Linked DNA regions of Homo sapiens: all the other regions are reported to be linked to region 3. The links are microRNA targets in miRTarBase. Many come from high-throughput screens and were not tested one by one. Region 3 holds a microRNA gene; each other region holds the end of a gene's coding sequence.
Evidence for each region. The annotated mature microRNA hsa-miR-6737-3p reads UCUGUGCUUCACCCCUACCCAG and lies in region 3 at 4,699-4,720, shown strand. An mRNA with a match to its seed (bases 2 to 7 or 8) in the 3' UTR can be bound and repressed. Matches are read on the target gene's strand: a 7mer-m8 pairs with bases 2 to 8, a 7mer-A1 pairs with bases 2 to 7 and ends in A, and an 8mer does both.

Region 1 (10,232 bases), not on the chromosome of region 3:
TCTGCTTCATTCAGCTTCACAGCCACAAAAATCAAGGCCTAGTAAGTGCCCTTTCTTGTTTAGGAAATCTGTCATGTTACCCTGTCTATACTTGCTAAAATGTAGGAAACTTTAAGGCAAAGTTGTTTTCATCCATGTTCCATTTACATGATGTTTATACTATTTTCCTCCACTATAAAGGAAGGGATCTAAGATGTAAAAGCTTGGAAGCAATGTGTATTTTCACAGTCTGCAATCTAAATATTTATATAATTTCTTATCACGTACAGCCCTATAATTGGTAGAATCTTACATAGAAGCTTCCAAATAATTCTGAAATATTAGATAGGATGGATTAAACGAAACCTTCTAACTTTCAGGGGTTCGTAATTTTTCATTTGATTAGTCCCCTAAAATTGTGTTGTGTAAAACTAAGACATCCAGTCAAGCCCCTGGCTTGGGTTAGAGAGTGAATTTTCTTTTTGTTAGATGCTGCCAAAATAGTGGCTTACAAGGGACTCTGGTTTGATGGGATGGATGTTCCCTGAAAAGTTTACGTCGGTGCAAAAGTAATTGCCATTTCAATGGCAAAAGCCGCAATTATTTTTGCACCATCTAAATATTTAATAGGTTGGTTGACTTGTAAATTATCTGCCTTAGATGTTTACTTTTGTGTATTGCTGACATTTTCTGGAGACATTATTGGCATTTTGTGTGTAATCCTTAAAAAAGAAAAACAACTATGTTCTTGAAAATTTAAAGAATCTTAATGTTGTTTGTGGTCATTTTGGGCAGAGAATGCCTAGAGTTGCCAGAATTGCCTAAGTCAAAATTCAGCCTGCAAATTTAGGGTTAGCAGATATAGCAGATACAGAAACATCATGATCAGAAAAGTGATAACATGATTTTTGAAAAGAAAACCATACGAATAATGCCATAATGGCTTGGAATAATGTAGATTTGAATGTTTAACTTCATTTTAAATACTACCTCAAAAGGATCTACCCATGACAGGGATGAATATGCTTGAAGAATGTCTTAATTTATGTGTTTGTGATGTTTGATTTGCAGTTTCCTACCGCATTTGAATTCAATGAGTATTTTCTCATTACCATTTTGGACCACCTATACAGCTGCTTATTCGGAACATTCCTCTGTAATAGTGAACAACAGAGAGGAAAAGAGGTAAAATATGAAACATGACCTTCCCCATACTATCTCTACTGTATACTTTTCCCTAAAAGAATGTACTCTGTGACAGATTTCAACTGAAGTCATTCTTTTGGGTCATACTTTATCTTACATGCTATAATATTGAGGGCTTCCTTCCATATATCTGGACCTGATATATTCTGAAGTATCTTTGTCACAAGGCTGAAGGTGCTAGCTAGCTGTCTGCTGAGTTCATGAGTGGGAAGTGGTTTCTGCTAAAGAGAACTGAAGTACGTGAAATCTAAGGAGCACCAGTGTACCAATTTTTCCATGTAGAATGGAAATCCTTTACAGCAGGTGCAGAAAAATTTAATTAGCAGAAAATGTATATTCGAGTGAATAGGCAGCTCAAATTCCCAAGTATATCCTACTTATTGAGACATTTTAGGTTAAGTTTTTGAGTTTTTTAAGTTGTAAAGTAATACCATAAAAAAATTCAAATACGGAAAAGATAGTATGTAGAAAGTTAAAGTTTTTCGTTATCCCTTTTCCCCAAAGGTATCACTGTTAAGTGGGGTTGGTATTAAGAAGAAATGGTGTAAGGATTACATTTCAAGTTTTACTTCTTTATCAAAACTTGTCTATCCTATGTATCAACATCTTAATCATCTTGATTGGTATCTCCCTCTGCATCAACTTTTATTCTAAAAAATGTGGTTACAAAGTATTTATGTTTTATTTTATAAAGCACAGTAGGAATAAGTACTTGCACTGAAGCCCAGTTGCTGGGTTCAAATCCTGGATCTATCACTTACTGTAACAGTTCGCTTGGGGAAGTTAATGTCTGCTTTTGTAAAATTATGAAGATTATTAAATAAGCAATACAAAATACCACAAGAACTGCTATGTAGTATTTCCTAGACTTCCTTAAAGGCAGGTATTAAATTTTTAAATTCACCTTATGTCTTCAGTGTCTAGCATGCAGTAAGTATTTCTATGCATAGCAGGCACTCAACAACTTAAGGAATGTTCATTAGAAATAGCATAGCTAAGTTTCGAAGAGTTTTATTTTTTGAGAGCCTTGGGGTAGGAATCATTGATTATTTTTAAAAAAACTTTTTAAATTGATAATAATATGCATACCATGAAATTCACTTTGATAGTGTATAGTTGACTGGTTTTTAGTATATCTGAGTTGTACAGCCATCACATTTTCATTTCAGAACATTTCATCACCTCAGAAAACCTGTTAATAGTCACTCCCCATTCACCCCTGCCAAACACTAATGTTTTTGTCTCTAGATTTGCCTCTTCTGGACATTTCATATAAATGGAATCATTTAATATGTAAACCTTGTGTCTAGCTCCTTTCCTTTAATATGCTTTCAAGGTTCATACATTTTATATCATTTCTTTTTATGGCTGAATAATATTCCATTGTGTGGATATATTTTACTTATCCATTCGTCAGTTGATGGACTTTTAGGTTGTTCCCACTTCTTGGCTGTTAATGAATAATGCTGCTTTGAACATCTATAAAAAAGTTTTTGTACAGACATGTCTTCTGTTTGCTGGATATGTACAAGAGTGGAATTGTTGGGTCATATGGTATCTCTTTGAGGAACTGCATACTGTTTTCCAGTACCCTCTGATCTTAATATAAGTTGGTTTATCACTGAAGTCTCCAAGTCCACTTCCTCTAAAGAGATTTTAATGACAACAAAGTACTTCTTCACAAATTTCATCTAAAGTGTAAATGGCTTATGTGGTGGAGAATCTTTACCTATTTTTCCTGCCTACAGAATCTTCCTAAAAGGACTGTGTCACTGTGGTCTTACATAAACAGCCAGCTGGAAGACTTCACTAATCCTCTCTATGGGAGCTATTCCAATCATGTCCTTTATCCAGTAGCCAGCATGCGCCACCTAGAGCTCTGGGTGGGATATTACATAAGGTGGAATCCACGGATGAAACCACAGGTATGTGCCTTACAATATACAATGGGAGTTTTCATTCATGCAGTGCAACTTTGTCTCCTTAAAAGCAGCTGGAAAGATTATCTGTGCATATTTAAAACTTTACTCCTTACCCATTGATAGTTAACAATCGTATAGTAGAAAAATACTACACTGGGGCAGGGTAATCAGTATACCTGGTTCTTAGGACTGCTTGTATGACATTGGACAAATCACTGCTCTCTTTTCTTGCATCTTCCCTCCTCTGTCTGGATAACCTCTAGGGGGTCTTGTTTTAATAAGCTGAAGAAAGTAGCTTTAGGAAAGTTAAAAGCTGAACAAAATTCTGGTCTACTGTGAATATGTTTATGGAATATTAACTACTTAGAACTGTTTAAGACTAAAAACCTATAAATAACAGGGAATCTTCTGACTACTGTCTTTTAATTGTCTTGTTAATTATTTGTTGTATTTGGAAAAGTACCAGTTTCAGGAGCACCTACACAGCAGGTTATTCTTTGGAAATACTCAGGGGCACTGGGAAAGCCAGTGAAAAGATTAGTGGTGTCCACAGTCCCGGTATTTAATTTCACTGATGGGTTGGAAAGGTGCCATTGGTTCCAACAGCTGAAAAAACATACACTGCAACATTTAGGGAATGATTTGACCTGGCTTTGGTCAGGATTGCCTAGTTGAATATTTTATGTTTTGCTCTTGCAGGAACCTATTCACAACAGATACAAAGAACTTCTTGCTAAACGAGCAGAGCTTCAGAAAAAAGTAGAGGAACTACAGAGAGAGATTTCTAACCGATCAACCTCATCCTCAGAGAGAGCCAGCTCTCCTGCACAGTGTGTCACTCCTGTCCAAACTGTTGTATAAAGGACTGTAAGATCAGGGGCATCATTGCTATACACTCTTGATTACACTGGCAGCTCTATGAGTAGAAAGTCTTCGGAATTTAGAACCCATCTATGAGAGAAAGTTCAGTCACTTTATTTATTTTAAATCTCTCTAGGATGAGTTTAGAACTGTAGCAGTGCAGGTGGCTTAAGTGAAGTAACTCCATATGTAATTACATGATTATGATACTAATCTTTTAAGTATCCAAAGAATATTAAAATACTTCAATCCTGGATTCACAGTGGGAACAAGTTTCTATTAAAAGGCAAATGCTGTTACAAATTTTTGGCATCTGGTAATATTAAAACCATTTTAGAAATACACTCTGTGCTCACTGTGCAGAGGAACATCAGTTTTCAAACCAACACTGAAATTCTGTGGCATCACATATATTGGGCCTTGATGTCATGACAGATCAAAATCATTTGATATCCCTTTCTCCATTCTAGGTTTTTCTTTTTTTCAGTAACTGATTTACCTTGATCACTTTTCAACTTCCATATTCTTCATATAGTAAAAGGCAAAGTGTTGAAGATACTACGGTGTGGTAGTAGTTGAAAATTATTGCCGTCATTATTTACATACTTAAGACATATTAGCAAGTTGATCCAAAATGGGAGGCCTTATAGATGTGCTTGGGGGAAAATGAAGGGGAGAAAGTAGCCATACAGGAGTTCAAAGAATTCCATGCCCTTCAGATTAGCCCAATTACCAGAAACATCATGAAAGATATTTTAAAAACTAATTATTTACTACAGTGTATTTCACTTGTCTTGTGTGTCTGAACACACAGAAGCTAATTAGCAAGTTTTTAAGAAGTATTTAAAAATCTTACTAGGATTGACATTTTTTCTGAATTCTGTATAAATAGCTTATAGTGAGAAGTACTGTGCTCAAATTTTACATTTTTTTCCTTTGCAAATTCTGTAATTTCACTCAACGATTAAGTCTACCAAAGAACACACTGCATGTAAAAGATGTATTACAATCTCAAAGCCAGTAAAAGAAATCTTGCTTCACTGTTCACCTGCTACAAGTAAGAGTTTGGTGCTGGTAGAAACATTTGACTCTGATGTCTATTTTATTCTACATAAGAGCCATATGTAATGTACTGTAACAAAGGAGCTTCTTGTCCCCTTGGTCTTTTAATTAAAAGAAATTCCAACTGACTTTTAAACTTTGTTCTTGTCCAAAGTTGCCATTTCTTTTTTTTCCCCAGAAATATTTGGAAATTATTGGAGGAATATGCACCCCAGATGAAAATGTTCAGTTTGTACCCATTTTTCCTTAACCAACACCCAAATCAAACAATTAAAATATACAGTGTTTTTCCACTCACTAATTCACTATACAGAGAGTCTGAACCTTAGCCTCCCTCTTGGTCTTGCAGTGAGGAAGTTTCTATTAGTATATCCAATTTAGCAAAATTGGTACCAAAATGATTTCTTTGGTAATTGTGTGAAATATAAGCTTTTTAACAGGGCATTTAAGTGGCTAGCAAATCAGTAATTAAAAATTAAGCTTTCTACTCCAAGTATTTCACAAACGCATCTGCCATTTTCCTCATTTAAACCTTGGTTATCTTGGCCTGATACCACATAAAAGAATGTAGAATGGCTGAAGAGATCAAGAATTTAAAGCTTCTAGTCTTAACATACTTGCATCCACTTCAAATTCAAATCAAAAGCCAGGGAAATCTAAGTGCAACCCTACCACTTCTCTGCTGAGAACCTTCCAGTGGTTCCCCTCACCTTCTGCAGAAGTCTCCAATATGGAGTACATGCACTTGGGCATTTAATATATACCACTGGTGTGTGTGGGAGGGAGGGAGGAGGAATACTAGCCCTTTTTATATATTTACACAAGCAAAACTTTTAAATATTTGAATTGACAGTTACATGTTTCATAACTTTGTATGTCTATTGGTTGTGCAGGTGTAATTTTTTCCCTTTTTGATTAGGGTTACAAAATTTAGAGACCAGTATGATTAAGTTGAAGCTCCTTAGCCTCCTTCGACCTAGTCTCTGCATACCTCAACTTTTACGTACCAATGCTACTCTGCTGTTCACAATTGCCTCATGTAATCTGCAGATTCCTGCCTCCCCACTTTGGTTCAGTCTGTCTTGTGCACCTGGAACAACTGTTCTCCCTTGTGACTAATTCCTATTTTCTAGAGTTTAGGCATCATCTCTTCCTTTGGGAAGTTATCTGATTCACGACTGCCTTCTCTGACATCCCCACCTTCCTCTGTGCCCCCATAGCACTGTGTATACCGCTACTACCACTGCAATTCACATTATATTGGAATGAACAATTCACATGTCTACCACAAGTCTGTAAACATAACCTTATTTGAAATGAATTGCAATAAAGCTCTGTTACAACGTAAGTGGATGGATGACACATTCCTCTACTGTAAACTTGCAGATAAGAAAATGGAAGCAGTATTTTTTCACTTCTCACCTGACAGTACAAAAAGCTGGAGTAGTTCAGTTTGAATCCTAGCTGAGAAAAGGGGTGGGATTTAGCATCATTCAATCACCATTCTCCTAATTAGGACTCAGAGCCACTACAATTCAAATGATGGTTATACAATTTAATGACCTGAAATTCAAACAAGGAGATAACAGGAGTTTTTAATAGCTGAAATGGTGGTTGACACATATATTTATCATGTCACCAGAGCACTGTTTCTCACTTCCCTTGTGTCTATGGGCTCACAATTATTAATTCAATCAAGCTACGAACCTACTCATTAGAAAACTGGACACAGAAGCACAAGTTTACAATTTCAGGAGAGTCACAAATAATACCCCAAAATCTTAAGGATCCTAAATTAAAGCCTGTTACTGTAGTATCTTGTATCATGAGGAAATCTAATATTCTTGGGCTCTCTTTCTATGTAAGCATGAGTGTGGCAACTAAGTACTAGTTTTTTCTCTTCATCAATACATTGATGTCCTCCTATTTAGAAATGCATTTTTTGAGAGCTTGTCACAAAGCCTTTATTAACAGGCTGTTAAGGAAAGTTGCAGTGTTTCCTTTAAAAAGGTGCTTTATTGACTTTAAATTTATAAAAGGTTAACATGTCTTGATCTAGTTGAAATTATGATTTATATCAACATGATAATTATGTGTACAGTTTATATTCCACTCATACTGTACACCAGTAAAAGCAAATATTCAAAGGGTTCTCTAAGTTTCAAGATTAAAAACCATAATGCCTTGACTGAATATCATGATTACAAAACAGGTATTAAGAACTGTGAAGGTATATGCTCACAACATATCCCTTCTCCCATTCTCACTTTATTCCAAAATCTCATTTATTTCACTGACAATTTGTTTATACTTTCAAAAATCCTTTTATAATTTTTATAGATATAACTCAAAATGACTGCTTGGGTCTTTAAAAAATTAACAGATTAAAAAGCAATACAAGTGCACTTAACACTGATCAAAGTCTGAAATGCCAAAAAGCAAAATAAAAATCCTCTGAAATATATATGTATTTTTAAATATAGAAAAACTCCACCAATAGTAGAAACAAAGTATGTTTAATGGTTGCTTTGGAAAGGGGAAGTGGGCACCTCATGCCAGGGAGATTTAAAAATGAGACTTTTCAAGCAAGCACTGCCTATAGCATAGTCTCATATTTTGAAAATTTAAACCTAATTTTAATTATATATAAAGAACTATTTTAAAAAATCACACCCACAAGTAAAAAACTGGTAATCTGTTTACAAAGTGCAGCGTCAGTACAGCAAACTCATCTCAACAAAAGATTATGTGTGGTTTCTCGGGCTTTAAAACTCCCCTGGTTTCCATTTAAATGCTTTAACATTGAGTCATCCTGCATACATGAAAAGCCTGTGTAATGAAGCCTGGGTCCTTTAACACCTGCTATTAATTAATTCCAACATAAGTGAGTATGAGACCTGGGAAGTAAATTGTCATCATCTGATTGATGAGGTACAGATTATCTGAATAAAATTTCTGACCTGGTTATGAGTCAGTAATCCCAACACAAACTACTGCTTTGTAATGAATTCTGTATGCTTTGCATGTCCTTCAATAACTGAAGATTTTTTCTCCTTTTTTCTCCAGGTCTCAGTTTCATAAAATCTTTCTTATTTGTGGTCCCTGTGATTCCAGAACGGCTGCTGCTGTTTCTTTCTTCATCAAGAGTCTTTTTGGTAGCTTTTAATTCCTTCTTCTGCTTCTCTAACTTCTGTTTCTCCAGCTATACCAAATAACCAAGGCAGGAAGGAAAAGGAGAATTTAATGAAAATATTTTTTTTCTGACAACAAAAAGTACAAGAGTACCTTTTTTTGGTTAACTCTCATGCTAACTGAAAAATAATACATTCTAGGCTTTCTTTTAAAGACTTCAAAATCTACTGCACTAGTCATTTAACACTTAAATATTAATATAAATAAATATATGCTTATATATATATAAAACAATACACAAACAAGTAGACATGAGTAAACAAATTCTGGTTGTCCTAAATTAAGGCAATATTGCCAAAGTACAGAACAGGGCGAGTGAGAAACAAGGGGAGTTGAAGGAAAGACTCATGAAGGAGGCAAAAAATCAGACACAGAGAAAAGAAGAATGGGAAGGATTTTCACAAATGGGAGAAGAGGAGAAAGATATTCTAGAAACTAGTCTGAGGAGGCAAAGAAGCAATTTCCAGATGGATGAACAGATGTAATTGGTAATGTATTAATACTATGAAAAGAATTTTATTTTTGTTCCATTATTTTTAGAATAATTTTAAATACGGGAGCTTTATTTTTACTTTAGCCAAACTGATGCTGGCATGTTGGTGTTCCAATAGAATAAGTCTAATTAGTATAAGCAACAAATTAGACCATTACTCCTTACTCCTACAGGAATAATTTGCTTGTATTTCTTTTTCATACATGAACTTTGAAAAAACAGCCAAAGTTTTAGAGTTGAAAAGGCTAGTTTCATCCCAGCTCTGCCATTTCCCAGTAAGCTGGTACTTGGGCAAGTTATTTAATTTCACTGAGGATATATGCATACTTCCCAGAAAATGTGGCTTAGCATCTACCTCATCTATAATATGAGAATATACCCACCTCAGAAGCCTTTTGTGAAAATTAAATGAGAAGATATACTCAGAGCACTTGGCACTGTGTGTCTATCATATGGCTACCAATCAACAGTCAACAAAACTGTTCTGCTCTCTGAACTTCTCAGCTTTCTCCATTTTAGTCAGTGGAATCACCATCCTAACTCCCTCTCCTTCTACATGATACCCAGCAGCAAGTAACCCCAATATTTTTTTTACTTCCAAAACATACCTCAAATCTGTTTACCTCTGCCCAAACCCAACTACTGTCTTGCTGACCACCTCTGATACATCTATAGCTGATCTCTCAGCCTCTCTGCCTTGATCCCATTACCCTACCCCTAGTCACTACAGTAATCTCTTAAATATATGAATCATGTTTCTCTCTGGTTGAAAACCCTTGAGTGTGATGTCACCACTGCATCTGGTAGTACTACATTGTTGGCTGATATAAAATGATTAGCAACATAAATATATTTCACATATTTAATGTATGACTTATTCCTTTGGAAACAGAATTTCGCAGGTGCTTTTAAAAAAACTTACTTGGATAAACTCCAATTTAAATTCATCAAAGAAGTTAAAGCTTATTCATAAAGAATATTAAATATATTCAGTATTTGAAAGATGTTTCTTAGATGAATATGCTAAGTGACTAAAAGTGTCTTCTTTCTTAATCCACTTACCAATTCTCAATGAACAAATGTCTTCAGTAAAGAAGTATCTCCTGTAGATATTTATCTATGATACACTTAGTGTCATCATTTAATATTTGAATTAAAGTGTTTTTTTTTTCTTAATCATTAGAAACTTGAGTGAAGGAAAACTGAGTTACCTGGGCTTGGTATTTTCGAACTTTAGTTATTTGGTTGGCTTTTGCTTCCATCCTTCCCACTAATGCCTCCAATTCACACTCCAACTTGTCTTTCAGTTCAACGGTTGGCGACTCCTGGATAAGTTTTGCAAGCTGCTGGTGATCACTATATACAAAGCAGAAGTAGAACATGGTTAAGTTTTCTGTGTTTCATGGTTAGGTCTATTATACCTCATTATGGGTTACTGCTCCATGTGTTTAAAAAATGACTCCATTTTTTGAACAGAGCAATAAATTTTTTTTTTTTTTTTGAGACGGAGTCTTGCT
Region 2 (9,733 bases), not on the chromosome of region 3:
GGACATAGAGCCAAACCATATCACAGCTATGCAGGCTTATAAAAACATTAGGATGTGGGCTGGGTGTGGTGGCACACACCTATAATCCCAGCACATTGGGAGGCCAAGGTGGAAGGATCACTTGAGCCCAGGAATTCGAGATCAACCTGGGCAACATAGTGAGACTCCCCGTCTCTACAAAAATTTTTTTTAAATTACCTGAGTGTGGTGGTGTGCACCTGTATTCCCAGCTACTCATAAGAGTGAGGTGGGAGGACTGCTTGAGCCTGGAAGGTTGAGGCTGCAGTGAGTCAAGATCCCATCACTGCACTCCAGCCTGGGCGATAGAGGGAGATCCTGTCTCAAAAAAGAAAAAAAAATTAGGATAAGCACTTTCAGAAAAAGCTTCAGAAAAAAGGGCAGGTTCTTCTTTAGGCCAGGTGCAAAGGTGTGACTTCCCAGAAGAAACGGGAAGACCAAAAAAAAAAATGGCCAATGTATTTTTCTCCAGATGAGGTATTTGTGTATGGATATTCTGAAGAAAGGGTTTTCTTTTTCCCCCTAGCAGTTGTTTGCTGTCACATGCCAGCAAACATGGCATGTCACAGCAGTTTGCTGTGACTAGCCAGCAGAGCCCTAGAGGAACTGCAGGACGTGGTCACCACTGTCTGTGTTAGTCCAGGGAACCAGCAGAGCTCTTCTGCTTCTGAAGCCTACTTGAGTTAATGAAAATCCTAGGGACCCTGCTGAACCCAATTCATTGCTGAGAGCCATGAAAAATAGCTCCATAAATCTGCCTCTGAAGAAAAGGTCAGGCTTCCCAGGTTGGGGTAAACAAATTGAGGATTTCAAAGCAACCTGTTAGCTACTCACGCCAATTTGCATACAAAGCCAACAAACAACCTCCCATTGTTAAAGAAGATGGTGAAGGATGTTCGGGTTTTATTGTCCAACTATGGTGACTGTCACAGTCCAGTCCCTTGAAAGAGTTACCTCGCAACCTGCTTCACAATCAAATGTCAGGACAGGGAAATGACCCTTGACATTTACCAAGCCCAGATGGACAGACGATCCCCCCCGGCAGGCCGCCTCCTAAACCAGCCGCACCTTCTTGCTCTGTCCAGGCTGTGAAATTGGTGACCAGATGCCTCCACTTCAAGCGTGTTAAATGCTACACCAGGTTTAGCAGAGAGAACACGATTTCTGACTTCCAGCCAAGGCGTTTGCATTTTAAAATGTCCACAACAGTGTTCCTTTTAAAGAGGGAGATTTTCTCTTTTCCACGTTTATTCAATTTTTAGTAAGCACCACTGGAGGGGGATGAAGAGAGCTTGGTTAGTAGGTACCAATAGATAGTTTGACAGAAAAAAAAAATAAGACCTAGTGTTTGACAGATCAGTGGGGTGACTATAGTTTACAATAATCTATTACATATTTCAAAATAACTAGAAGAGAATAATCCAGATGTTTCTAGTATACAACAAAGACAAATATTTAAAGTGATAGATACCCAGCTATACTGCTTTGATCTGTACAAATTACATGAATGTATTAAATTATCACATGTGCCCCCAAATTATGTATATCGATCGTGTATCAATTTTTTAAAATCTAACACATTAAAGAAAAAAGCAGGAAGCAGGTTGATACTGGTTTGAGCCAGGACTCAGAAAATATAAAGATATGTATAATATTTTAAGATAAATAAATAAATAAAAGGAACACAGGACACTAGAAAAAATAGTGTATAAGGATTGTGAAGTCAAGAATGACCTCCCCTTCTCTTCCGCTCCTGCCACCCCTGCCCAACATATACATTCTTTTTTCAAAATTTATCTTTGCACTTTGGGAGGCTCTGGAGGGAGGTTCACTTGAGGCCAGGAGTTTGAGACCAGTGCGGACAGCAAAGTGAGAGCCTCACCTCTACAAAAAAAATTTTTTTTAATTAGCTGGGCATGGTGGTGCACAGCTGTGGTCCCAGTTACTCAGGAGGCTGAGGCGGGAGGATTGTTTGAACCCAGGAGTTTGAGACCAGCCTGGAGACTCCCTCTACCAAAAAAATGAGATAAGGCCAGGCGTGGTGGCATGTGCCTGTAGTCCCAGCTACTCGGAGGCTGAAGCAGGAGGATCACTGAGTCCAGGAGTTCAAGGCTGCAGTGAGCTATGATCCCACCACTGCACTCCAGCCTGACCTACAGGCTGGGCTTACGAAAATAAGTAATTTTTGTAAAAGAACACTATATAATAATGTGATAAAATAAATAAATATAGGCCGGGCTCATGCCTGTAATCTCAGCACTTTGAGAGGCCAAGGCAGGTGAATCACCTGAGATCAGGAGTTCGGGACCAACCTGACCAACAGGGAGAAACCCCGTCTCTACTAAAAATACAAAATTAGCCGGGCATGGTGGCACATGCCTGTAATCCCAGCTCCTCAGGAGTTTGAGGCAGGATAATCGTTCAAACCTGGGAGGCAGAGGTTGCAGTGAGCCGAGATCGCACCATTGCACTCCAGCATGGGCAACAAGAGCGAAACTCCGTCTCAAAAAAAAAAAAAAAAAAAAGAAAAATATAAAAGTGTGAATTATAAAACTGCAATGGATGCACAAGAGCTATTTGGATTTTGAAGTTAAAGGTAAACTTTTCATGAAGACGCTAAGTGTTTGTGAAGGGAAGGGAATTTATAACTTGGTGTGTCCTTGAATGAAAGAGGCAGGGAGCTATTTGTTGCTTTTATTACAGCTTCTGGGCAGAGGTTCATTTCCATGAGAAGAAAAGAGAATTTGCCAAAGTTGCCCTGGTATAGCAGGGCCTGTCAAGCCATTGAGGATGAAATACTAAATCAGGTAGCGTATTCCAGGTTCTCAACATTTTTGATCAACAAAACTCTCAGTGGCTTGTTCTTAACTCCTTGGAGAGACAATGGTGGAAATTTTGGATTATCTTTAAATACTAAAATGAAAGTACAACTCTTAGTTCAAAGGAGAATAGTGATACACTTCTGGGTGAGAATTAGTCCTTAAATGAGCTTAGAGCCTGCACCAAATATAAAAGGTAGACTCAGATATTTGACCTTAGCAATGTTTCGTTAATGTTCAGGCCCATTGGAATTTTTTCTCAACTTCCTTCACTAGCAATTTGTTTTCCTTTAGGCTCTCCAGACAAAAATTATAAATCTGTAAAGCAATCAGTTAGGATAGAGAAATGAAAGAGAAAGACAACATTTATTTACTAAAAACCAGAAACAGGTGCCTGAAAACAAAAGGTCTTAATCTGTCCTTCATCTAATTCTCTCCTTTGGATTTTGGAAATGTACAAAGGTTATTGATCACAGCTCCTGCCCACGGGGAGTTCACAGTTTAATCCCCAAATCCAGGTGAGAAAGGCCCTCATTTACCAAGGCAACTGTGAATTAAAGCTATGGTATCAAAACCACATCCACTAAATTTAGGGGGAAAAAAACACTCCACCGTGAACTTGTAACACTTAAAAAGTAAGAAACTTGCTTTGAGAAGTGTGGTGTTTTTCCACTGTCCTCATCGGTTCCCTAGGGAAATTCCAAGGGGAAGAAACCGGGGATAAAGAGCTTTTTGTATTTCTCTTGGTTTTAACTGCTAAAACAATTTTTGTTCCATTAGGTTTGTAATGTGAGATCTTTCAGAGTGAATTGACACAACAGCCTCTGAGTTTATTAATTCATCACAACTTAGTCTTCATGTGTCTAAAAACAAATTGCTGACTTCTTGCAAGTTCCAAATGTACTTATGCAATGCCTTGAAAATTGTTAAATGTAAAGTTATTCCAGGATTACGAAGTCTATTCAATTAGCATGGCATACACACACACACACACACACACACACAGCATGCATAGTTTTCAGCTGATCTTTCCTGAGTTCTATTCAGATTTAGTCCAACATCAATCTAATCTGCAAGATACAGGGAGCTAAACACCATTTGAAATTGCCCCTGAGAGGTCAGCGGGCCATTAGCTCCTAGATAGAATGAATTTCCTAAAAGTCTTGAGGAATGACAAATGCCTTGAGATATTATCTCACTGCTTACCCAAGTTATCTCCCCAGATTGCTTATCAATGCCTTTCCTGTTACCCTTTTCATATTCAAAGAATGGGAAAAGTTTGCAGAAGTTTGGCTGATAGGTCTTCCCTAGCAATAAATACTCTGAAATTCTAAAAAAGCACATCCCTTGGAAAATTGCTGCCTTGCTGGAAGAAGTAAATCCCCAACTGGTTAATCTCAGCTCTGCCACCTTCCTGATTCTATCCTCAAATTCCTGGAATGGCAGACAAATGAATTACACCACCACGCTGCAAAACAGTGCAGTGTTAGCAGATTAACAAGGACATGTTCAGAGTGTAAAATGTACTCCAAATAAAGAGTTGCCAAAATTTGAGAGTTGAATTTCGTCATTCTATGGGATCTCTAATTCCCCAAAAAAATCAATGATCTGCTTTTTTTGAGGCAGCAGATAGAGTCATATTGACAGGATGAATTGGGTAGAGGGAAGGGGAGTCAGTTGGGATCTGGAGCAGTCAATTTTTCTATTATAAATGTTGGTATCTGGAGCATTTAATTTTTCTATTATAAATGTTGGTATCTGGAGCATTTAATTTTTCTATTATAACTGTGACCCACAGAGTAACTAAATTAATTTCATCCAGGGTAATTAAATGATTTTTAACTCACTCCTCCACTTCCAAATTCACAAAGTTCTAAAAACTAGTTCTAGAAGTATTTGTATTTTGTTGGGAGCACCCGTGGGGCAGGCTGTAATCGATTGTGGCATTGAGAATCAATTGTTGAGAATGAACCAATCAGACATAAGCCACGCAAACAATATGGACACATTATCTGCTACCTATCAAATCCATTGATTTTCTCAATGGTTTGACCATTCGGAGCAGCTGAAACTCCAAGGGAACTTCATTCTATCAAATACTAGAAACTCAAGTAAGTTTATATGATTAAAACATTCTCATCAGTAGCCATCTGTATTATTCCAGAAGGAAACAATTACAAATGAACCTATTTAATAGGCATGAGAGGCCAAAAATAATAAATTGAAAATGAATATTTAAAATGCCATATCCAGTCTGCAGGTGACTGGCAAGTCTCAAGTATGCAAAGATCTTAAATATTAAAAAGCAATATTAATGTACGGTACAAATAATGGGCACAAGTTCTCAGATTTTAAGGAATATTATGTGGGCACAGTTTATGCAAGAATGTTGTGTATATGAATGAAAATAGCTACAATGTCTCTTCACAATAATCCTACAAGGTGTTACTACGGCCCCCATTCCACAGGCAACCACAGGCAACAAAAGTGAATATTCAAAGAGCTTACATAATTTGCCGAAGTTCGCACAGCTGTGGAGGTTTAAAGACATTTGAGCTGAGAGGCAGAGAAGAGGACCAATTAGAGGCTGTAAGGGAAAAAAAAAGCTATCCCGGCCCCAAAAGAGCCAGTTCCCTAGTCATGATACTAGATGCCACTGCTTTCAAGCTTTTAGCCTATAATCAACCCATATTGAAACCAGATTTATGAGCTCTTCAGAGGAAAGCTTTGTGATTTTCTAAAGCAGACATGTTTGGTATTTTATAAGGTCAAACCCCCTACGGTGTAGTGTTTTTAATAAAATCAGTTCAGCAGAAATTAGAGACACACCAGTCAATTTCTAGGAAGCCTCTAAGCCATTCAAAATAAAAGGAAAAAAAAATAACATAAAAGACATAACCATGCACAGATCAATTTTTTCAACAGTGGTAGAATGTAAGGAGTTGTAGATAGAAAATCATCTTGGCAAATTTGGTCCCATGTCTCTAGTTTGGGCAAATTTCCACTCAGAAAGGAAAATTCCTTTTGGGGGGAGTTCTATGACAATATTAAGCAAGGGTTGTTCCTGGTTAGCCTGGCCTTGTGACACCTCAGAGTAACAGTAAACATCTCTAAGACGGAAAAACAAATAAACCAGTCACCACCACTTCTGACATCACTGAATCAGGTAGACCCTGGACCTTATCTTAGTCCTTAATCTCTGGCTCCTGGCAACTTCTGCACTCTCACAGGGAAGCAAAAGTAAAATCTATATGTAGTTCTTAGTTACATCCAAAGTTGAGGTGCCTGCAGTATTTTCATAAGAAGGCGGATCTGACTTTCAGATTGGTGGTGAGGACACGTGTAAAAACTAAATGAATATCAAGAGAGAGGATTTTTTTAGGAAAAGAGGCAGGGCTGGCCTATTATGTGGCTAGAAGCGGAGCCCCAGAAAACTGAGAGGCCATGGGCACAGTGCCACCTCCCCACAGTACAGGGAGCTGTAAATAGCCTCGTGAATATACAATAGGAAGAACAAAGGCCCAAGATCAAGTGGAGAGGCTGCATGCATCCTCCATGAAGTTTGTGGTAACACCAGTCCAGACATAGGCCTCTCTGGGAGGAAGGGGTTCACTGATTTCAAAGTGTTTCAAAGCACATGACTTTAAATCCTTCATTGTTTTATTTCCTAAAGAATTGCAGAGTTCCTGGTTAACCTGTACTTGGAAAAAATGAGGTGAACCGGCCCTCATCAGGGCAAGCAGAGAAAAGAAACTCTGACTACGTAACAGATATAAAAACTGGCCACTTGAAGAATTGCTGAGCTTGCATAATGTCGTACATGAAATGAGAATGTACAAGGAGCAAGAAGTCCTTTCATCTCTAAACTACAATCTACTATAATGTGATCAAGAGCCAGAGTGGGGTTGGGCAGAGTGGCTCACACCTTAATCCCAGCACTTTAGGAGGCTGAGGCAGGAGGATCACTTGAGGTCAGGAGTTTGGGACCAGCCTGGCCAACATGGTGAAAACCCTGTCTCTACTAAAAATACAGAAATTAGCCAGGCATGGTGGTGGGTGGCTGTAATCCCAGCTGCTTCAGAGGCTGAGGCAGGAGAATCGCTTGAACCCGCGGCGGGGCAGGGGGCAGGGTGGTGTGCACCACGTGTGGTGTGTGGCGAGTGGGGTGGAGGTTGTAGTGATACATATGGCGCCACCGGACTCCAGCCCGGGCGACAGAGTGAGACTCAAAGAGCCAGAGGTGGAGGTGAGGGTGGAAATTTCACCAACAGACAACTTTGATCAATTCCCTTGACAGGTTTGAAGGGTTGGGTTCAACAATTCTTTGGCTTCCTCAAAAACTGACATACATAAAGCTTAACATCTTTTATAAAATATAAGGCATGCATGCAAGAGCTGCTCATCTTAAAAGGGACAGTACGAATGCTATCATTTATTAATATGTGTTTATTCCACAGCTTAGTTTTTTGGGGCAGGTGGTCTATTAATATTAATAAAAGAAAACCCCATACTCGAATATGCAGGCTGTAATTTTTTTTTTTTGAGATGGAGTCTCCCTCTGTTGCCCAGGCTGGAGTGCAGTGGCACAATCTCAGCTTACAACCTCTGCCTCCTGGGTTCAAGCAATTCTCCTGCCTCAGCCTCCCGAGTAGCTGGGACTACAGATGCACGCCACCACGCCCAGCTAATTTTTGCATTTTTAGTAGAGACAGGGTTTCACTATGTTGGCCAGGCTGGTCTTGAACTCCTTACCTTGTGATCCACCTGCCTCGGCCTCCCAAAGTGCTAGGATTACAGGTGTGAGCCACCGCGCCCGGCCTACGGGTTAACTTTTAAGCAAAAATTTCACATATACAAAGGAATTCAGAAGATACCCTCCATGGCATAATATTCTCACATTTAAAATAAGAAAGATCCACTGGGGGCACGGGAAGTACACAAATAAAGCATACGTTTAAATTCAGGATGGGCAATGTTATCAGGACAAAAAGTCTTATAAGAGGAAACATTGTTTCCTAGCTGTATTAGTTACTGGCTAAAGCCAATGTTCTATTTGGTTACATAAAGGATCATTTGGGAGGATGAAACCTAGTAGCAGTTATTTAAATCAATTGGTGTATCGTGTTCACTACAGAAAAGCTTTCTAAGTATTAAAAAAAAAAAAAGCATCACACTGTTGAAGCACAAGGTTTAAAATTAAGTGTGTTGTACAGTAAGGTTTGGCTAATTGGGGAGCCAAAATACTTAATTTGGCTTAGGACAAAATAAACTGGCCAATTAATCAACAGTAAAAGGAGACAGTGACTGACTTGAACAAAAAAACAGTTGTTTAGTTGGTTTTTTTTTCTTTTTTGGGTGGAGGTATACACATTGGAAAAGGTATTCCGGAACACCTGGATCAAAATGACCTTTGCTAGGTCAACTCCAGAAATTGATCAATCATATCTGACCTGGTACACATAAATTCCAGATCTCCTTCTTAGATGAAAGCTAAAACCAGAGTTATCCTATAGCCAGAATGTGGGTAAGACACTAAAAGATGGTCAGTATACATTTAGAAACTCCACACTGTAAGAAAATTACACAGGCACATGGAAGAATAAGCAAGATCTTGGTCTTGTTTAAAAAAGAAAAGAGAAAAAAAAAAACCAAGCCACATCCTAGAGTTGAGAACAAATTATTAACAGCAAATGGCCATTTGTATAATTAACATGTACTGTCTCACGTTTCCCAGTTAAATTTATGAAAGACACTATTAAATTTCAGACAAAATATATATATTTCTTTTAAATCTTTACAATAAATCAAGATGTAGAAGCTTACATAGGGCACATTTTTGTTTATTTAGGTACTCAATTCCAGCTCCCTTGGATGCAAATAACCCTGGTGACAGTGTGTACAAAGTCTTCTCTTTGCTTTTTATAATTTTAAAAGCAAATAACACATTTAACTGTATTTAAGTCTGTGCAAATAATCCTTCAGAAGAAATATCCAAGATTCTGTTTGCAGAGGTCATTTTGTCTCTCAAAGATGATTAAATGAGTTTGTCTTCAGATAAAGTGCTCCTGTCCAGCAGAACTCAAAAGGCCTTCAAGCTGTTCAGTAAGTGTAGTTCAGATAAGACTCCGTCATACGAATTCCAGCTTCCCGTGCCCACTGTACATGCCCCAGTGAACAAGCGAGAGGATCTTATCGTTGCTGAGGTCTGCTTGTCTCATTTTATCACAGGTCAGACAGCAGTTCTCGTGCCCACTGACCGGCACCATGCATTCCAAGTCTAACTTTGCAACCTGCCCCTTTTTGGAATGGTGTCCGTGAAAGCTGTAGTGCAAACGGGAGAGCATCTGTTGCCGCTGATCCTGCAGCCTCTTATTTTCACTTCGAAGCATCCTCAGGGCCAACATAATAAGCAACACTAAAATCAGCCCTCCAGCAATGGGCACGGCAATGACCGCTGCCCGGAACCACAACTCTTTGGAAGAAGTCAGCTCCTGCACCTTGGTGATAAGGTTTCTGCTACCATCATGCTGATACCTGTTTCCTTGTCCTAAAGGAGTACAAAGAAAATGATCAAACTCCATGCTAACTCCTCCTAGGGATATTCATAATCATCAATTCATTTTAACCAAGAATTCCATTAAAAAGAAGCTTACAATTAAATCAACGATATTTAGAAAACATTGCAAAACTATCTGAAGAAGCTTACAAACGCATTTGTTTACAGACTGTCATTACTGAGATGTAATGGCCTTTTAATGTCTTCAAAATGTTGAAAAAACAGGCAAAACCTATTATGTAGACAGACATCTAATGCTCAGACATAAAAGCCACTCAATCAAGATGCATCTTTGCATCCAGCCAGGCTTCTCCCTCTGGTGTCTCTAATTACATTAACA
Region 3 (10,232 bases):
TTTACAAAACGTTTTCATAAAAATTGTTCTCTTCCTTAATCCATAACAGTTCTGAGGCACACACGGCGGGTAATATTTTGCAAATTTTACCTATGAGGAGGCAGATCCATGACTAGAAAGTAGTAATACCAAAACTCAGGGTTGATTGATTATTTTTATTTTTTTGCCTTGGTCTAATGTCTGATGGTCCAGGAATTCACTTCAAGTAAAACAATGGAGGTAAACTGATACAGGTATGGTTTTCAGTAGTATTTCAGAAAAGGGTAGCTGGGTGAGTAAAACAGTAGTTTGGAGTGTGAATCCCAGAACTCAAACTGCTACTAATTATCCTTATGAAGATTTGAACGGGCTAAGGGTAAAAACGGGAACAGGGTCTAGTCAGGCATTTCCATGTTACTCATATAATTCTTACAGCAGATGGAGCTGACAAGTTTGTTTGTTTGTTTTTCTTTTGCTCTGTGGCCCAGGCTGGAGTGCAGAGGCTCGATCTCGGCTCACTGCAAGCTCCGCCTCCCGGGTTCACGCCATTCTCCTGCCTCAGCCTCCCTAGTAGCTGGGACTACAGGCGCCCAGCTAATTTTTTTGTATTTTTAGTAGAGACAGGGTTTCACCGTGTTAGCCAGGGTGGTCTCGATCTGACCTCGTGATCCGTCCACCTCGGCCTCCCAATGTGCTGGGATTACAGGCGTGAGCCACCACGCCCGTCCGAGCTGACAAGTTTAAGTAACTTTCTCAAGGTTACCCTGTAAGTAGCTGAACCAAGATTTGGATGCTTCAGCCCATGTTCTTCACACTATCAACCCACCTTGTGGGGCTTTCTCAGATTTCTTATCTGTCTTTCCCGCTCATATCTCTCCATCCTGCTCAAGTAGTGAAGAGACAAAGCAGCCTTCCTAGATTGATGCAGAGCTCCAAGGAAAGCAAAGCTGTTCTTGTTGAGATCATTCTGAGAGCGAGAAAGGTGGTTAAATACATTTCAAAGGGCTTCCTGCGGGCTGTATGTGCAGAGATGATTTGAGTGGGGAATGTAGTTAGCTTCCGTTGATGTTAGAACTGGAAGGACCCTCTGCAGTCATCTGCTTGTTTAACTTCCTCCTTGCCCCTGATTTATCAAACTCTGGTGAGGAAAACTGACTTGCCTAAAATCATACATCAAGGTAAGGTAAAATTGAGGAGATCTATTGGGCCGGGTGTGGTGGCTCACACCTGCAGTCCCAGCACTTTGGGAGGCTGAAGCGGGTGGATCACCTGAGGTCAGGAGTTCAAGACCAGCCTGGTCAACATGGTGAAATCCCGTCTCTACTAAAAATACAAAAATTAGCCGGGCGTGGTGGCGGGCGCCTGTAATCCCAGCTACTCGGGAGGCCGAGGCGGGAGAATTGCTTGAAACCTGGGAGGCAGAAGTTGTAGTGAGCCAAGAGCATGCCACTGCATTCCAGCCTGGGCAACACAGCAAGACTCTGTCAAGAAAGAAAGGAGGAAAGAAGAAAGGAAGGAAGGAAGGAAAAAGAAAAGAAATAAAGTTGCCAAGAGATTTTAAATGTTCTCATCACAAATAAATATGTGAAGTAATGCATATGTTAATTAGCTTGATTTACCCATTCTGCAATGTACATATATTTCTTTTCTTTTTTCTTTTTTTTTGAGACGGAGTCTCGCTGTGTCGTCCAGGCTGGAGTGCAGAGGTGTGATCTTGGCTCACTGCAACCTCCGCCTCCCCGGTTCAAGCGATTCTCCTGCCTCAGCCTCCTGAGTAGCTGGGATCATAGGCATGCGCCACCACGCCTGGCTAATTTTTGTATTTTTAGTAGAGACAGGGTTTCACCATGTTGAGCAGGCTGGTCTCCAACTCCTGACCTCGTCATCTGCCCGCCTCGGCTTCCCAAAGTGCTGGGATTACAGGCGTGAGCCACCGCGCCCGGCCCAATGTACATATATTTCAAAACATCATGTTGTACACCATAAATATATACAATTATTAATCATATATGACATATGTATGTGTATAAATAAACAAATATATATATTTGACAACTATAAAGGTAGAACTTGGACCAGAATCCAGGTTTCCTGACCCCCCCAGTCATAATTCCTTGTTAATGTTACCAATTACGAATAATTTTTTTTTTTGAGACGAAGTTTCGCTGTTGTTGCCCAGGCTGGAGCGCAATGGCGCGATCTCGGCTCACTGCAATTTCCGGCTCCCGGGTTCAAGCGATTCTCCTGCCTCGGCCTCCCGAGTAGCTGGGATTACAGGCCCCCGCCACCACGCCCGGCTAATTTTTGTATATTTAGTAGAGACGGGGTTTCACCATGTTGACCAGGCTGGTCTTGAACTTCTGTCCTCAGGTGATTCATCCTCGGCCTTCCAAAGTGCTTGGATTACAGGCGTGAACCACCGCGCCCGGCCCCTTAAGAAGTCTTCACATTCCTCTTTTACTTAAGGAATTACTGGGCTTCGTTTCTGGAGCCTTGTGAGAAGCATTACACTGTCCCCCCTTTTTTTTTTCTTTTTTAAAATTAATTTTCCTGTAGGAAGCAAGATCCCATCTGTCCCTTCTTTAGGCAATGAAGCTTTTTTCACCTTTGCATAAAAGAACAGCTGAGCCCCCTTTTTAAATTTTCTTTTGTCTTACCGTCCCTTGAGGCTAGAAGAGGATTCTCAAGGCACAGAGTTGTGGGCCACAAGAATCCAGGTTGAGGAAACGGTGAAAGTCCTGAGCTGAAACAACTACCTTGGGGCATTCAAGGAACAGCAAACAGCAAACCGACCGGCGAGGGTGGCGGGAGCTGGGCTGGAAATCAGGTGGGAGAACCGGCCAGACGCCCGCAGGCGCGGTACGCAGATATCCTGGAATGCGCTGGGGGCTCTTCCCTGGGCGCGGCTTCAGCACCCCGCATTCCGGTCCCACCACGTCCCCACCCACCTGGAGAAGGCGGAGGCTGCACTGAGTGCCATAAGTAGTCGAGAAGGGATGATTTTCAAGACATACCCTCTCTTTGCTTTCCCCCCTTTCCAATTCTGCCTTGTCTTTTTCCTTGTTGTGGGTGCTGGTGAGGGAAAGCAGTCAAGGAAGTTGGTCCCAAGAGGGGAATGCTTTCCCTTGGGCGCCAAGAGGCACTGACGAGGTGTCAGAGCCTTCTGAGGGACAGATGAGACTTTGGCCCAAGGCCAGGAAGATGTTTTCAGATGTGGGCCGGAAGACTTGACAATGCGGGGTCTCCCTCTTTTAAAAATATCCATATAATCAAAGCCTTTGTTGACTGGCCCGCTCCGGCCCCTCAGTCCTCCACAGATGCGCCCCAGGGCCCCAGCCCCGAGGTCCTTTTCCTAATATCCGCTCTTGCTCTCGCTCACTCTCCTCAGGTCGCCTGCTCCGCCCGCTCCCGCTCCCGATCTCTGATTGCTCCTAACTGACGTCACTCCCGGTCTGTCCCCGCCCACTCGGTGCTGCCATTGGCAGTCGGTCGTGGGTACGCGGCTCCTGTGGGGGAGGGGGGAGCTATGGGAGGGGGCGGGAATTCCCGACTCTAGGCCGGAAGCGCGCGGAGACCATGTAGTGAGACCCTCGCGAGGTGAGTGCGGGCTGTCTGGCAGCGGGGTCCATGTCGGCTGCCCAGGCCTCCCCGGGCCCGGGAACAGGAGTCCCAGCTCACGCATTCTTCATCTGCTTCCCGCGACGCTTGGCGGCCTCGCACCCCGCCTCCTGGAGCCCGGACTTTCAGGCACCGCCCTCAGTGTCGCCTCAGTCCGTCCCGGGACCGCAGACTCTTAGGGCCCCTCTCTTTGGCCATCTGCCTCTAGGTCCCATCCTGGGGCCTGAAGCGCTTGTTCTCTGCGCTGGGAAAAGGGGAACGATGGAGCGATCCAGCACCCAAACTTACCCTGTCCAGGTGGCCCACGAAGCTACCCAAGACATCTCTGCACAGCCCTAGCCTTTTTGGCTTCACCCACTCCGTTCGGGAGTTGGGGACCCGGCCTCTACATTCCTTAGGGGAACTCCAGCTCCAGGTCCTATTTGGAGGCGGCTCCTAGTTTCCTAGTTTTCTGGGGGCACCAGGTGAAAGGGTGATGAGATATCCATACAGCCTTTCTCATGCCTCGGTTTCCCCCGTGCAGTCTCCCTGAATAAGTCACTTGGGAAAGAAAGTGTGAGAAGAGAGGAATGTTCCTGGTACAGGAGTAGATGAGTCACCCTGGGTAGGGGAAGGTCACAAAGTGGCTGGGGCCAGGGAGCTGCACTCTGCTGACCAAGCTTCCCCATTCCTTGCCCCATCTTCCTTTGCATGATTTTTCCCAACCACTCTGGTCTGTCTTCCTAGGTCTGAGAGTCACTGGAGCTACCAGAAGCATCATGGGGCCCTGGGGAGAGCCAGAGCTCCTGGTGTGGCGCCCCGAGGCGGTAGCTTCAGAGCCTCCAGTGCCTGTGGGGCTGGAGGTGAAGTTGGGGGCCCTGGTGCTGCTGCTGGTGCTCACCCTCCTCTGCAGCCTGGTGCCCATCTGTGTGCTGCGCCGGCCAGGAGCTAACCATGAAGGCTCAGGTAAGCCTCTCCTTTTCCCCACACTGCTATGAATGCTTGGCTTAGGGAGGGCTCTGGGGCTGGCGGGGAGTGACCAAAGGAGGAGGGAAAGGCAAGGGTAGCCATTGTTTGGGTTGGGGTGGTCGGCCCTGGAGGGGGTTTGTTTGCTTATTCCCCTCTGTGCTTCACCCCTACCCAGCTTCCCGCCAGAAAGCCCTGAGCCTAGTAAGCTGTTTCGCGGGGGGCGTCTTTTTGGCCACTTGTCTCCTGGACCTGCTGCCTGACTACCTGGCTGCCATAGATGAGGCCCTGGCAGCCTTGCACGTGACGGTGAGCACTGGCCTGGGCATGTGACTTGCGGGAGGGGAATCACACACCTCTGGGAGTGTTGGTTTGTGGAGATTGATTCATGTGCCACTCCATGACTGTGTGGAAGACTTTTGGCATGTGGTATGAATTGTGATTTTTGGTTATGGGGCATAATTCTTTCTATGTGTTCCCTCCCCCTTCCCCATTCCCTGTGTGACCCCTACATTCCCGTTGAGACAGTAAGACACTTTTTCTCAGGTGTGTGACTTGCTCTATGGGTTCTCAGTTCTAGCTACCAGCAAGTGCTCCAAGAATCATCTTCACTCTCTCACCACTTTCCTAAAGGGCTGGAGATAGAGGTCTCTGTAGGCCTGAGAAGGATAGGAAGCGATTCCCTGGGTCTTGGTGTTGCTAACCTTTTTAGGCTTTGGCCCAAGGAAGTGGGCTGTGAGGAATGATCAAGTCCACGGCATAGGACTTGGTTTATTATAGGAAAAACTGAGGCCGTTGGATAGTGGGGCAGGAAAGTCATCCTGGGCTCTTTCCTTTTTTCCTCTAAAACTGAGGAAGTAACACTGGATGTATCCCTTTGTGTGTCTGTGACTGAGTGACCTGTGTTTCCGTGTGACTGCGTATAAGCCTGAATGTCCTGTGATATGTGGCTCTATGTATGAGTATTTGGGGAGATGGGCAATGTGTGACCTTTTCATGTATGTCTACATCAGTGACTCTCAACTAGGAGTGTGGCTTTGCCCCTCAGGAAACATTTGGTAATGTCTGGGGATATTTTTAGTTGTCACAATGGGGAGGGGGATGGAGGGAACATTGTGCCTGCTATTGGCATCTGGTAAGTAGAGATCAGAAATGCTGTTAAACAATCTACAGTGCACAAGACAGCTCCCATGACAAAGAATTATCTGGCCCAAAATGTTTTTGTTTGTTTGTTTTTGTTTTGTTTTGTTTTTGAGAAAGAGTCTTGCTCTGTTGCCCAGGCTGGAGTGCAGTGGCACAATCTCGACTCACTGCAATCTCTGGCTCCTGGGTTCAAGTGATTCTCCTGGCTCAGACTCCTGAGTAGCTGGGATTACAGGCATCCACCACCACACCCTGCCAATTTTTGTATTTTTAGTAGAGACAGGGTTTCACCATGTTGGCCAGGCTGGTCTCAAACTCCTGACCTCAAGTGATCTTCCCACTTTGGTCTTCCAAAGTGCTGGGATTATAGGCATGAGCCACTGCCCCTGGCCCCAAAATGTTAATAGTTCCAAAGCTGAGAAACTTTGGTCTACACGTAACACTGTGAGTGACACCATAATCTGTGTGTACGTATCATTCTGTGTCAGTGTTACCAATTCACTCTATCTTTGTGTGACTGAGAGTAGCCCTGTGTCTGTGTCAGACCCTAGGTCTGTGTAACTGGGCTTTCACCAGATTTTGCATCTCACTCTTCCTTCCCTGAACATTTTGCTGCTGCTTCTGCCCACAGCTCCAGTTCCCACTGCAAGAGTTCATCCTGGCCATGGGCTTCTTCCTGGTCCTGGTGATGGAGCAGATCACACTGGCTTACAAGGAGCAGTCAGGGCCGTCACCTCTGGAGGAAACAAGGGCTCTGCTGGGAACAGTGAATGGTGGGCCGCAGCATTGGCATGATGGGCCAGGGGTCCCACAGGCGAGTGGAGCCCCAGCAACCCCCTCAGCCTTGCGTGCCTGTGTACTGGTGTTCTCCCTGGCCCTCCACTCCGTGTTCGAGGGGCTGGCGGTAGGGCTGCAGCGAGACCGGGCTCGGGCCATGGAGCTGTGCCTGGCTTTGCTGCTCCACAAGGGCATCCTGGCTGTCAGCCTGTCCCTGCGGCTGTTGCAGAGCCACCTTAGGGCACAGGTGGTGGCTGGCTGTGGGATCCTCTTCTCATGCATGACACCTCTAGGCATCGGGCTGGGTGCAGCTCTGGCAGAGTCGGCAGGACCTCTGCACCAGCTGGCCCAGTCTGTGCTAGAGGGCATGGCAGCTGGCACCTTTCTCTATATCACCTTTCTGGAAATCCTGCCCCAGGAGCTGGCCAGTTCTGAGCAAAGGATCCTCAAGGTCATTCTGCTCCTAGCAGGCTTTGCCCTGCTCACTGGCCTGCTCTTCATCCAAATCTAGGGGGCTTCAAGAGAGGGGCAGGGGAGATTGATGATCAGGTGCCCCTGTTCTCCCTTCCCTCCCCCAGTTGTGGGGAATAGGAAGGAAAGGGGAAGGGAAATACTGAGGACCAAAAAGTTCTCTGGGAGCTAAAGATAGAGCCTTTGGGGCTATCTGACTAATGAGAGGGAAGTGGGCAGACAAGAGGCTGGCCCCAGTCCCAAGGAACAAGAGATGGTCAAGTCGCTAGAGACATATCAGGGGACATTAGGATTGGGGAAGACACTTGACTGCTAGAATCAGAGGTTGGACACTATACATAAGGACAGGCTCACATGGGAGGCTGGAGGTGGGTACCCAGCTGCTGTGGAACGGGTATGGACAGGTCATAAACCTAGAGTCAGTGTCCTGTTGGTCCTAGCCCATTTCAGCACCCTGCCACTTGGAGTGGACCCCTCCTACTCTTCTTAGCGCCTACCCTCATACCTATCTCCCTCCTCCCATCTCCTAGGGGACTGGCGCCAAATGGTCTCTCCCTGCCAATTTTGGTATCTTCTCTGGCCTCTCCAGTCCTGCTTACTCCTCTATTTTTAAAGTGCCAAACAAATCCCCTTCCTCTTTCTCAAAGCACAGTAATGTGGCACTGAGCCCTACCCAGCACCTCAGTGAAGGGGGCCTGCTTGCTCTTTATTTTGGTCCCGGATCCTGGGGTGGGGCAGAAATATTTTCTGGGCTGGGGTAGGAGGAAGGTTGTTGCAGCCATCTACTGCTGCTGTACCCTAGGAATATGGGGACATGGACATGGTGTCCCATGCCCAGATGATAAACACTGAGCTGCCAAAACATTTTTTTAAATACACCCGAGGAGCCCAAGGGGGAAGGGCAATGCCTACCCCCAGCGTTATTTTTGGGGAGGGAGGGCTGTGCATAGGGACATATTCTTTAGAATCTATTTTATTAACTGACCTGTTTTGGGACCTGTTACCCAAATAAAAGATGTTTCTAGACATCTGTACAGTATCTGATTCGTTTGTTTTGGGAAAGGGGTGGGCATGTGGCCAGCCTGAGAGGGCCTGAGTCCCAGATGTTTACAGCTGTTTTAAGATTCTTGGTCTCACTGTTTTCACTCAGGACCCGATAGTCCCCTTCCCTGAAGATGACCTAATTTTTCCTCCTTTGTGTCTTGGTACTTCTTTCCCGGTCTCCACCCCTCGGCTTCCCTTCTCTTCCCTCCCCTCCCTCTTCCTTTCTTCTCTCTTCAATCCCTCTCTCCTTTCCGTTCGTAGTCTCAGGGCTAATTTAGAACTACTCTTCCCAGCTTGCACCTCTCAGGGAGTAGCCGAGAGGGTGGAGCCAAGTCCCCAGTTTCCGGAGTCAGCAGGGCTGCTGGGAAGTGGAGTCCGTTTCCTCCTAGTGCTGCGTGACTGGGGATGTGAAGGAGTCTCGTAAACAAACTACAATTCCCGGCGGCCCCCGCGCGCAACAGGTCAGGGCTAGGCTGGGGCCGGGTTCGCGGTGCTCGCTGAGGCGGCGGTGGCTACGGCTGGAGGAGCCGGGCCGAGGCCGCGGCGGAGGCCGCGGCTGGTACTGGGAGGGTGGCAGGGAGGGACGGGGAAGGAAGATGGCGACGTCGGGGGCGAACGGGCCTGGTTCGGCCACGGCCTCGGCTTCCAATCCGCGCAAATTTAGTGAGAAGATTGCGCTGCAGAAGCAGCGTCAGGCCGAGGAGACGGCGGCCTTCGAGGAGGTGATGATGGACATCGGCTCCACCCGGGTGAGGGGCCGCGCCGGGGAGCCGGAGCAGAGCTGAGCAGTTACGGAGCGGAGACCGGAGAGGCGGGGCGGGGGCGGGCGCCGCAGCGAAGGAGGCGGAACAGAGCAGGGGACGCGGGCGCCGCCGTTTGGGAGGCGCAGGTTGAGGGCCGAGGGGCAGGAAGAAGGATTTTGCCGGGGGAGACCGAAACACCGGAGAGGTTCGGGGTGTAGAGGCGACTGGGGGCCGAGTACGTGAGGTGGGAGTGGGCGGAGAGGGGAGATGAAGTCCGGCGGAGGTAGGAGGTGAGTGGTCCTTGTGCATCCCTGACGGAGTCCCCTCGAGGACGCTACTGAAGCATGCCTGGTATTGGGGTATGGCCTGGGAGGAGGGCTGCTTGTCTGTAACCTGGCTCCTCTGAGTTTGTGATCTCCTCCAAACTGGTCCCTCTGCCTTCTGCGCTTTGGTGCCCCCGGGAAAGGGCCCCTTGAGTGGTTTGAACGAGCGGTGCTGTGTATAGTGGGGCAGGAAGTCCCCTCCTGCGTCCCGTCCTTTTGCTTCCTTTTTCAAATACTTCTTGTGGTTTCCTGACGTGAATGAAGGTGAGGTCCATTGCTTGGTGTTTTGTCCTGGCCTCCTTGGAGGAGAGGTAGGGTTTTGAATCCGACAACTGGGTAACCGTCCGACCATAAGTTGTGTGGAACTCTATGGTTTGCTGAGCTTTCTAGGGAGTTGGCTGCTTTGTGGGTTAGTGTGTAGGGTGCCTTGGAGGGTCTTCTATGTGTTGAGAATATTCATTCCTAGGAGTTCTTGAAAGAACTTTCAGGCCTCTGCCAGGCTGCCTCTGAAGCCCCCCTGGCTTGGTTTCTTGCTTTCCAAGGCTGGAGGTCAGAGGGACCAAGGGGTAGGAGTCCGCCTAGGTGGTATGCAGTCTTAATTTAGGGACACATTCTTCTAAAACAACAGTAGGTAAGGATATTGCAATGATTCCTCATGGCAGAGAGCTAGAAGGAATTTAAGGATTGATGGTGGAACATTACTACAACATCTCTAGCCTTTTTCTGCTGGTCTGACTGTGGTTGCATTTATGACTGTGACTCTGGTTGTATTTTTGTGTGTATCCCCCTTGACTCTGTTACTTTTTTTTTTTTCTCGTCCTTTCCCCTTTGAGTCTCTAGGGACTATGTGCCCTAGTTTGTGGGAGTCAGAAGTTAGGTGGGGAGGCAAATCTGGGAGGGTGTCTGTGCACGCATGTGCACACTTAAATGCATGTGTGTGCATAACCCACTGTAACCATTGTGAGGATTATTATCTAACTGTAGACTGCTCCCCTTTAGGAGCTTTTTCATCATGTTGGGGACAGAGACAGGAAGATGGGAGGCTGATCTTGATAGCGTGAGGCCCTGCCCTCAGGACTGTGATTCTAGCAGAGGCATGGTGGGATCTTAGGGCTCGTATGTGCAAAGAAAGGCTGTGCGAAACTCAAAAGCTGGGGCTTCTCTTTACGGTGCCTCGATCTCTTAAAAG

Region 1: the mRNA of CEP57 is a reported target of hsa-miR-6737-3p. The part of its 3' UTR that is shown has no 7-base or 8-base seed match.
Region 2: miRTarBase lists BAMBI as a target of hsa-miR-6737-3p. Seed matches in the 3' UTR shown: 7mer-A1 at 8,799-8,805.

Annotation. Positions count from the first base shown.
Region 1 is chr11:95,829,026-95,839,257 of GRCh38, reverse strand. It overlaps CEP57 (centrosomal protein 57), which reads right to left. Exons shown (of 11, transcript NM_014679.5): 10 at 9,927-10,071; 11 at 6,565-8,232. The coding sequence ends at 8,002. It overlaps MTMR2 (myotubularin related protein 2), which reads left to right. Exons shown (of 15, transcript NM_016156.6): 13 at 1,051-1,164; 14 at 2,934-3,110; 15 at 3,807-6,378. The coding sequence ends at 3,968. Among named protein-coding and RNA genes, the nearest start is that of CEP57, 44 kb to the right of the region's middle.
Region 2 is chr10:28,681,634-28,691,366 of GRCh38, reverse strand. BAMBI (BMP and activin membrane bound inhibitor) reads right to left here. Exons shown (of 3, transcript NM_012342.3): 3 at 8,435-9,384. The coding sequence ends at 8,966. Among named protein-coding and RNA genes, the nearest start is that of BAMBI, 9.0 kb to the right of the region's middle. RefSeq lists an enhancer at 6,584-7,492.
Region 3 is chr1:153,956,839-153,967,070 of GRCh38, reverse strand. It overlaps MIR6737 (microRNA 6737), which reads left to right and starts at 4,651; the gene lies at 4,651-4,720. It overlaps CRTC2 (CREB regulated transcription coactivator 2), which reads left to right and starts at 8,459. Exons shown (of 14, transcript NM_181715.3): 1 at 8,459-8,726. The coding sequence starts at 8,574. SLC39A1 (solute carrier family 39 member 1) reads left to right here and starts at 3,534. Exons shown (of 4, transcript NM_001271958.2): 1 at 3,534-3,576; 2 at 4,324-4,542; 3 at 4,721-4,851; 4 at 6,317-7,961. The coding sequence starts at 4,356. The coding sequence ends at 6,973. RefSeq lists enhancers at 3,158-3,437, 3,478-3,647, 3,798-3,857, 2,747-3,946, 3,898-3,967 and 5 more and a silencer at 8,680-8,829.